Regions from separate parts of the Homo sapiens genome. Here region 1 is linked to region 2. The links come from fine-mapping of genetic effects on gene expression. A gene starts in region 2. The other region holds a variant in brackets. All regions are shown on one strand. Distances are from middle to middle. Region 1 overlaps GABRR3 (gamma-aminobutyric acid type A receptor subunit rho3). Region 2 holds the start of RIOX2 (ribosomal oxygenase 2).

What was found.
Region 1: its variant is fine-mapped to the expression of RIOX2 in whole blood (TOPMed, PIP above 0.99).

Annotation. Positions count from the first base shown.
Region 1 is chr3:98,001,143-98,006,142 of GRCh38, reverse strand. GABRR3 (gamma-aminobutyric acid type A receptor subunit rho3) reads left to right here. Exons shown (of 10, transcript NM_001105580.3): 8 at 4,376-4,528. Among named protein-coding and RNA genes, the nearest start is that of RIOX2, 31 kb to the right of the region's middle. The variant A/G (reference allele first, on the strand shown) is at 2,656.
Region 2 is chr3:97,969,691-97,975,226 of GRCh38, reverse strand. RIOX2 (ribosomal oxygenase 2) reads left to right here and starts at 2,796. Exons shown (of 10, transcript NM_153182.4): 1 at 2,796-2,846. It overlaps LOC124909398 (a long non-coding RNA gene), which reads right to left and starts at 2,574. Exons shown (of 2, transcript XR_007095976.1): 1 at 1,417-2,574; 2 at 105-361. RefSeq lists a silencer at 2,612-3,051 and an enhancer at 3,322-3,581.

The DNA.
Region 1 (5,000 bases), 31 kb before region 2:
ATTTTTCTGCTCCTCCTTCTTCTCCTCCTTTTCTCGGTTTGTCTTTCTCTATATGAATAAATATAGGCATATATTTATCAGGATTTTTAATGTTCTTACTTAATCCTAAATTAAATTAATATTTAAATAAAAGAATGTATGCAATGAAGCATGGTATATGTGAAGTATAATTTATAGGATGTGTTTTCATTTTACTATTGCTAAAATGAAAAATAACTTTGGCATATGATAAATTGTAAATAGATATTTGCAACATTTAATGCTAATATAATGTAATATATATGAAGCATAGAAATCAAAAAGAATTGTCTCATGCACAGAACATATGCAAAATATACAATAATTATGGCATTTCTTTAGCTTTTGAAGCACAACTATCCATTAACATATATCCAACCGTCCTCCTAACAGGAAGTTAAATTTCACTTCAAAATTCTAACTTTACCACTAAATCATTCCATTTGCTCTACCATAATTTTATTTGTGCTTGTCAGACTTTTTGAGCCCTACCAGGCAGCTACAACACTAGCTGATTTATATCTTTTTCTGGTCATGTTTTAGAATCTCTCTAAAGCCAGGAAAATACTGGCATGGAAAAACTTACTGCTTACAAAGATGCTTGCATTTTAAAATGAACTTACAAATCTTTAACGTTCAAAGGTAGTTACATTTTTAAGAAATATCATTTTGGTTCCTAAGAAAAATGAAAAAAAATTAGAATTAGGTTCAAATGTACATGCTTTGTGTAACATGAGAAGGAGACTTATCCATAATACATTAATATTCTTTAAAAGCAAGTTACGGAAGAATATATTTTAAAAATCCCATATTTGTTATTGAAGAATGTATGTATACATATTTATGAGTGCATGAGTGCTTATATACATATCTGTGCATATCGTGTGTGTGTGTGTGTGTGTGTGTGTGTGTGTTAAAAGCCTAGAAAGATTAACAATAGATACCTCTGAGAAGTAGGTACAAAAAACACTTGTATTTTTTAATTTGTTACAATATACCCATTTTTTTTAATGACAGAGATTGGTAGGAAAAATGCCGAAGGGAGGCATTTTGGAAGTTGTATTCAAATATCAAATCAATAATCATATCTGGGTTCATTTAACCATCCCTTAGTTAGGTTTCGGAAAGATTACATTTAGAAACTTATTTTAGTTCATGAGCATGTGATAGCTCTGCCTCACATTATCCACGAATCATTAAACATAATCTTCTGACAAACTCAAGTGTCTTTTTCAGACTAGTTTCCTGTTTAAATATTTTAGCTTCCTCAAAAATAATTTTTGATTTGTTTTCTTCACTCCTATCCTTACAACTACCAGCCACAACCACCACTCCCAGGTGTATAGAAAAACTATACATCTGACTCTGGCTATAAGAGTCAGAAATATAGTTATAGGACCTTAGTTTCCATTTTACAGCTGAACAACAGGGTGTTTTTTTTTTTTTCTTGGCCTTCACCACTACCGTTGCCACTGTTCAAAAATCACCACGACCTGGCAATATTAACAAGCAGATGAGGGCTTCTGCCTCCTGATCCCTTTCTCAAAATTCTCAAAATCATGCACTATAAATTTACAAAGAAAAAAGAAATGACTCCTGCCCCTAAGGGATGCATTGAATAATTATTCTTTATCATAGCATAATCTAATGGCTGAATGTGTAAGTAGTAGAAACAGACTGCCTAAGTTCAAACCCTGTCTCTATCATTTATTAGCAACCTGACCTTGGACAAGTTGCTTAATCTCTCTAACCCTTAACTTTCTCATCTTTAAATGGGTTTCATAATACTCTCTATATCATAGGGTTGTGAGGATACATGATGTCATATAGTTAAGTACCTTAGAATGTTATCTGCCATATAATAGAGGCTCAATAAATATTAGTTAGTAGCTGTCATCATCACCCTATTTTCATCCACATTATTTTGATCCTTTTCATAGAGAGTATTAAGGCCTACTTTCAAAGGGCCATTGAAGGTGACTGTCTCTAGGTATAAAAACCTTCTTTATTCTTGTCTTGGGACTGACTCCCCAAATACTGGCCCAGTCCTCCATTTCCCTGGGTGCCAACTCTCTAGCCTTTTTCTCTCTGTTATTAACTCCTCTTCTTTCTACTGTATGGCAAACTAATGGAGGCAGATGTACCCGTCCCCATCCAAAATTTAGTTCAGATGCCAAAACTGATGATGCCATACACATGACAAAAGGGTATGAAGTGATTTATTACTTACATAATGAGGCTTTCTAGAGAGAGATGGGCAGGCTCCCAAGCAGGTCTGAAATGAAAAATGGCTTGAGAAAACAGGAAGGGGCTACTGGCTTGGGTTTTTATGGTAGCTAGGGGGTGCAGCTAGGGTGAAGGCTGCCTGTCGTAGGACAAGATGCATGGTTTGAACTTTTCACAGGTGCCAAAAAGAGACCTAGGCTTTTTATTAACTTGCTCAGATGTAGGGCAGAAGGAGAAGTTGGGCTTGAGAGCTTTTAGCAGTCAAACATCAAAAATAGAATCAGACTTTTTATTGTACTACCCAAAATGAAGGCTTCACAACGTTCCAAGGCAGCACCACCTTTCCTGATAGGGAAATGGACTCCCCATGACCTGCAGGTTCAACTAAAATACCACCCCTAGTCTAAAACC[A/G]CAAGACAGAGCCACAGTTTGACTTCCTGGTTACTCCACCCTGCCCCCACCCCACCAAAAAAAAAAAAAAAGGACAACTGTTCTTCAGAAAATTATGAATAAAGAAAGGATGCAGTTAACTAATTTTATTTCAAGTTAATAATGAACAGAAAACTATATACCTTAATACTGTCTTTCTTTTGAATTTCTTTCACAGGTTTTCCTTATTTCTTTTAACCTCACAGTAGTTATATAAAGTTGTAAGGTCAGAAAGCTGTTATTGTACTCTACAGCCATCACTGAAACTCTCAGTGGTACACAGTAATAAATTGGGGCTGTGATGTAGGTGATACAAGACAATGAGAAGCTTAAAAATAATTTATATTTTAACTTTATAATGTACTATGTGATGTATATTTTATTACTCCTGGTAATAAAATTGTTTGGTATTCCTGAACATATATAAACTGACTGTTAGAAGCTTAGAACTAGGTAAGGAAGAAAAAGATAATGAGTATTTCATTGAGAATAGGATTCTAAGAGTAGAGTCTGCCAGTTCAGTGTGGGTTGGCCAGGTGTATTTCTTAGGCCAAATGCCTAAGTACTTAAGTGATCCATCTAATAGGTTTGCCGTCTTGGGTTTCTAAGAAATTACTGCTGAGACTAGCAGAAGGGTTTTCCAACTCTGCAATACCTATGATTTTTATTTTATAACTTTTGACCTATAGTCCCTGTGTTTTGAATAATGTTATTTGAAAATAAACAGCATTTATCATAGAAAAAAAATCTTGCTACTTATTCAGAAAAGATGTATTTCCATGTTTCCTCATGTATTGCCTTATTTTAGTAAAGATTTAACAAGATTAGCACATAGTTATTGTGAAATAAAGCAAGGTAATATAAATTAGAAATGTATGAGAAAAAAAAGAAAAACAAGGATAAGGTATTATATATATCCTGGTATGTGTATGTGGTCATTAAAGAATGGTGCTCAGAGAAGTCCTGTAGATGTCTGAAAATTTGGCTTTAAACTTCCTTGTAGTCAATGGGAGAGGTAAACCTGAACAAAATGTGTGTGTGGATGTCACCACAAATGGTGCTTTTAATTAGCGCAGTTAATATTACCAACGTGAGTTTATATAATTTCAATAGGAAGCAAAGAAACATCAGTTGGTTACTTTTTTGCAGATTCATCATGCACAAATTATGGTACTTGTGAGACTTTAAAATTGTAAAACTAGCTTATGGATGCTGTTTTCTTTCTCCTTTGAATCCCCAGCTGTCTCCATCTCAGGTCAAAATCCAATGACCTAGTACATACTCTGAATCTTTTCATTCAGTTAAATGTTTTTTTCATTTGTTATAGCTAATAAATGGTTTATTGGTTCTTTTATGCCATTATTAGTCATGTATTGAAGACTTTCCCTCTTGCAGAAACGCCACAATACAATATATTGTGGAGACAGATCTTTAGAGGCCATCCCACAAAAGATAACCACTATTCATCCCTGAACTGCGGGTTTGGAAGTTAAAGGGGATCTTTGAGTCAAATAATTAAGCAGACTGCAGTTCAGCTGGTTGAACAAATGTTGATGGAGTGCCAGGCCCAACTAAATGGAGATGAGTTTGTCAAATTCCGTGTCCCCAAGAGCTTGGAGTCTAAAGAAGCAGGTCATTTCACTAAGTGCAGTGTTTCTAAGGGGAAGCTTGCTCTAATGAAAACTTTGGCTTTTTTCCACAGGTTGGTACAATAGGCTTTTCATCAACTTTGTGCTAAGGAGGCATGTTTTCTTCTTTGTGCTGCAAACCTATTTCCCAGCCATATTGATGGTGATGCTTTCATGGGTTTCATTTTGGATTGACCGAAGAGCTGTTCCTGCAAGAGTTTCCCTGGGTAAATCTTTCCCCATCTTTATAAAATGTTAACATGGGAGAAAGTTCAAGGGAGGTAAATAAAATGGGTCATACATGGAGAGGAAAAGAGAGTGGTGGTTTAGTAGGGATAGTCAGAGATGAACATCCAGGTTGCAGTATCGATCTTGACATCCTCAAGGGCAAATTGTAATTGAGTTCTTTCCTTGGGAACCCGGATTTTAGGGATGAAGTCTTTGCTGACTGACCTGCAGTTGGGTGATAGTAAAGAAAGGGGGTGAAATTATGAAGCATAAACAGCCTCACTTTTAAAGCTTATCTCTTTTCTTTTTTAAGAAAACCTCCCCATGCTTTATACAAGTCCATTTAGCTTTTCAGGACAAACCCTTACATCACAGAAAGGAAAACCTTCAAACTAATTCACACTATACTCTTAGTGTATTAATAACAAATTACCTTGGTGGGTTAACAAGAATGTGGAAGGGATGCTTGAA
Region 2 (5,536 bases):
CCTGATGCCCAGGCTGGACAGGTGCACAGCCACAATGAGGTGGCTAAAAACCAAAAGCTCTACAGGAAGAAGAGCCTAGGAGACCACAGAAGAGGAAGACAAACTTGGCTCTAAAAAGAGTCTTTTAATAAAGCAATCCAAACGGTGTGAACGTCAAGCACCTCTGCAGAAATGTAACTTATTTTACAAGGCTCATGGACAAGTCTGTTTCAGGGTTTATGGCCGAGACATGAAGGGAATTCTCTTCTTTCTCCTGTCTCCTTGGCATCTTGTTCCTCAGTTACAGAGGAGGAGCGCTAGTCTGTTGATTAGAAATCTGGAGGCTTCTAGACTTTTCCGGACAGATCTTGAGAGCTGCCATCTACAACATTGTTTTCATGAGAAAATTAATTACAGAAACAAAATAACTGACTTTTAAATGAACCTATGGTGGGGACTGGATAGCAGTCTGCATCTTGTCCTCTGGAAGAACTTTTCCAAAAAAAAAAAAAATACCAGAAACAATACATGTAGGAAGGCCATATATTCTAGAAGCCTCCCAGGCAAGGTTGCAGACCATTCTCCACTCCCATCCCATGCCACCCTTACTTCCTCACCTCCTCTTCCTCCTCTCAGGCAAGGTTGCAAGCCATTCTCCACTCCCATACCATCCCACCACACCCTTACTTCCTCCCCTACCTCCTTCCCTCCCTCCCCCTTCCTCCCTCCCTCCCCGCCCCTTCCTTCTTTCCTTCCTTTAGACGGAATTTCGCTCTTGTCACCCAAGCACAAACTAACTTTCCTTCTCTTTTTCTTTTTCTTTTCCGAAACAGAGTTTTGCTCTTGTTGCCCAAGCTGGAGTGCAGTGGTGCAATCTCAGCTCACTGCAACCCCGCCTCCCTGGTTCAACCAATTCTCCTGCCTCAGCCTCCTGAGTAGCTGGGATTACAGGCAGGCACCACCATGCTTGAGTAATTTTTTTGTATTTTTGTTAGAGACGGGGGTTTCACCATGTTGGCCAGGGTGGTCTTGAACTCCTGACCTCGGGTGATCCACCGGCGTCAGCCTCCCAAAGTCCTGGGATTATAGGCGTGAGCTACCGCACCTGGCCCCTTCTCCTTTTCTTCACAGGAATGATGGGCACTGTTTAGGTCTGAAAATGGAACTATCATGACTTTTTTGCTTGCTATGCTAAGAAATCGGAATTATAATGAAAAAAATCAGAGAGAACATACTGATATACTAATTTTGCATTAGAGGAACTCCTACACAAGATGTATGATTTCCCCCTGCAAAGCTGACTTCCATATGTACTTTTGTTCTGTTAGACATCCTGCGGCCATTTTATATGCTGAGAAAATGGTATTTTGTGTTGACATTATAACTTTTTTCTACAACCGTACTGCTTTTCCAAGTGGTGGACGTGTGAGAATTTACCTTTATCTGAATCCCGGGAACAGCAATATTATTCTATATTATCTTGAGTAGATGTCTTGCAGTCAAAATAAAGAGCGAAGTACATTACCAATATCATATCAACTAGAGATTTTTGCTGTTGACTATTCTTTTTTACCCTGTAAGGGCTAAATTTGATGTTACCCTCGAGTTTTTCCAACTGGAACCTGCCAGGAAACTTACTAGTTATACGAGTATTAGTAAAACGTGAAAAAGACCAACAGTTGACTGACTGGTTTGGCTCTAATCTTGTTTCTGCATCTTCCTAGCTGTGTGATCTTGTGCAAGTTAGTTAACCTCTCCTGACTCAGTTTCCTCAACTGTAAAATGGAGGTAATTGCAAGGTTGTAGTGAGGATGAAGTGAGGAGTATTTGAAACACCTAGCGTGGTGCCTTATAGCCAGGAAGAACTCAATTCAAGACTTGCTATTATTGTTAGTTTTAGACAAATACTAGACAAGGGTGTACTTTGTTCCCATTTGTTCATGTGCCACTTGATCCTTAGAAGCAGCCACTGGTCTCAGTCACCTTGACGGAACGAAATGTCGACTTCCTCTGGGTCCTCTGGCTGTCTACAGAGCAAAGAAAGGCACAGGCCCGCCACTGATTTCCCTGCTCCCTCATTTGTGCCTCCTGACTGGAACCAAATGTTCCAAAGCAGGGAGTGTTAGGCTGAAAGGACTCAGATAACTGCATTTCTTCTGTTTCTATAGCCATAGTCGCAACGAATTTCCAGTATCTTTTAAAACTAGGATTGACTCTCTCTCCCGGAGCGAGATGATATAAATGACACTCGGCTTGTACAAATCAGCATTGTGTAGCCACACAGCCCATAAGAAAGCCATGGGAGAACCCGGACCACCAACTCCCTAAACTTGCACCGCTGGTATTCCTCTTCAGGCCTGCTTCTCTATTCATAAAAGGAACGGAGTTGCACCAAAACGCTCTCTCAAATCCTCTCCTGCCGCCCCAAGTTAAAAGAAAAAAAAGGAGAGCCGGGTGGGTGGCTCACACCTATAATCCAGCACTTTGGGAGGCCGAGGCAGGAGGATCGCTTGAGCCCGGGAGGTAAAGGTTGCAGTGAGCCAAGATCGCTACCACTGCACTCCAGCCTGGGCGAGAGTGAGACCTTGTCTCACATACCATAAAAAAAAAAAAAAAAAAAAAAAAAAAAAAAAAAAGAGGAAAAAAAAGGCCATTTATTTCCTTCCATATGGACTAAAGAAACGCCCGGGCGTGAACGCGGAACACCGCCGGGTAGCCAGGCCTCCGGGCTGCCACCACTTGCGGGCCGGCGTGGCGGGGCGGGGCGGGGGCTGGAGCACGGCCCGGAGCGTGCCCACGCTGCCCCGCCTCCAGCCGCTGCGCCGCAACGCAGTGGGCTCGCGGCCGCGAGCAACAGGCCGTGCCGGGTGAGTGGGGCGCTCTCGTGGGCATCCCAGCGCCGGGGCAGGCCGGGTAGTGCCCGATCCCGCGGGGCGCGCGCTGCTGCTTTAGGCACCCGGGCTCGGGTGCGGGTCTGGGAGACCTGTCGGTCGGCGAGAAGCCTCGGTGGCCGGCGCTGTGGTTGCGGGACCTGGGACGCGCTCCCAGGCGTCCCACCTCCCCGGAGACTGGGGCAGGGTGGGTGGGGCCCGGATCTAGGGGTAGGGTCGCGGAAGCCTTGGTTACAGAGAGTCGCACACGTGGCCTGCTAATGGTCGCGACACCGGTGACGAGCGCACGGAAAGTTTGGAGGCTTAGCAAGGAGGGTGGTGCCGGCCTCCGCCCGGTGGTGGCAGAACTGCCTGTGCGAGCACGGCTTCCACGTGGGCTGCGCCGCCGGGCGTCATGTCGGGCCTAAGAGACACGCTCTACAGCTGTGAAATCTGAAGTTCAGGTGTGTGGGGAGAAGGGCAGCTGCATTACATCATATGCTTCCAATTCATTTACCAGCAAATAATTCCGCAACGATTGGCCGACAGCTGGGTTGTCCAACAGGTTACTGAGACCAGGTTATTCACTGTTTTCAGGAAGGATAGACTGGGAGGAAGAGGATCTGATTTCGCCACTCATTAGCTGTAAATCTGGTGCCTCGGGTTTCATGTCACTGGGCTCATCTTTGAGCAGAGGAACCTGATTTACTCAGCTTCTTCTGCTGGTACTGGTTTTTGCCTCCTGGACATCAAGCTTTGTAACCTCATGGTCACGAAAATACATTGAGGTATAGTCCGTTTCCTCTCTAAAATCAGACTAAAAAGATAACTGCTGATCACTCCTTTAGGTCAATAGGAGAACCAGTTTTCCCTCTGGATTGATTAACATATCTCTGAGCCAAAAAGAAATGTTTTAGATCAGTCTGGGCAACCTTGTTACAAGCAATATATAATTTCTGACAGCCGTGTGTTTAACTGAGCTGCGTTTGACTGTTGTCCTCCATTAGTGGACCTAAAATTCATCTAGAGAGCGTATTACGTTAATGCAGATTATGGGCCTCAGCCATCAGAAGTGGCAATCCAGTGGGCTTGATGAGGGCCCAGAAATTTGCATGCTAACAACCTTGCTGGTAACTCTGAACTACATTCTGTAAAACTGCCCAGGGGATGTAGAAATTCATACTTCCCTCCCCGATTTAGTAATAACTACTGATGTCTAAAGTGCCTTTTAGCTTTTACGATACTCTTGAATCCTGAAGTGACAGCTGCAATCAGAAAAATAATCCCCTCTGCACAGGCCATCTGTTTTTTCCGTAACTGTTTTGTGTAAGGCCTTTGTGGTTTGTCTCCAAAATTGTATACAGACAAAAGATGAAAATGTGAAAAATTCAGCAGACATTTCTTGAGGACCTCCTATGTACCACACCGTGCTTGTTTCCGGGGATATACAAATCCTTTCCTTCAAGAGCTTCCTCACGTCTTCATGTCCTCAAATATTATAGAAAAGGAGGTTAGGGTACCTTTAAAATATAGTGACTGTCTGTCTGTTGCCTATAGTATGGTTGTCAACATTGATTTTCTTATAGGGTTTATCTGTGGGGTAGTCACCAAAGTATGAACTGTAAATCTTTTAGTCTTTTTACATTTAATGCTTATAGTCAACTCAAATGGAAAACAATTGCTCTTCAAAAACTTTTCTGTGATTTTACAGAAATATTTACTCCTATTGGGGTGGTCTCTAAGGCTTATGGGCAAGGTTGTGTTGGCTGTACTATTCTAGACAAAGCATTGTCTTCTTTAATTACTATAGTATTGGATTCTAAGATATGTGTTTTACTTCTTGCTGTTTCCGAAATTATGATATGTACCTTAAGACTTTTGTATGTTTAATGTGGTAGGATGCTTCATCTATTCTCCCCTCTGCTCTAGAAAGCTGTTAAGAGGAATGGTTGTCTTACAGTATGAGTAGTGTGAGAATCAGAGAAATAATGTATTTGCCCAGAAACCTCTAAGCTTAGGCTCCAATTAACTGAGCCTCAAATCATTTCAACATGAACACAGAGAAACAAATGATGTAACTTTTGGCAGTATGGGTAGTGAAATTTATATTCTAAGGAAAGCATTTGTTATACAGTATTGGGGTTTGTTAGTGATTGTAGATGGGAAAGATTCTTTTAAGTGATTTTATTTTGGCTTAAGTGTTTTGCATTCTTTGATTAGCCACACTTTCTGGTGAATGTGCTTATACTGTATTCATATATTATGCTTAAAGAAAAGCTTTTCGTTTGCATCTTCCTCCTGCTCTCTCCCCTTAAATGAATTTTAAACTGACCAATTGTGAGAGATAAGAGATGTGTGGCTGAATATAAAATGACTCTATAGGGTGCCTTTAGTAATACAAACCTAATAAACCAATCTAAGTTTTTAAAAATTAAACGTGAGCAATGTGCTGTGGTCCCCAAGGCCATCTTTAGTTCAGCAATTTGCTAGGAGGACTCGGCTGATTTATTACAGGGAAAAGATATCAAGCACAGTCAGCAAAGGGAAGAGGCACATGGGTGAAGTTCTGGGGATACCAAGTGCAAGGCTCCAAGGGTCTTCGAGCGGTCACACTGGCTGTGCTCAGTTGCTCCAGCAACTAGTTGTGTCAACACTTGTGAAATGTTGCCAACCTGCGAAGCTTGTTA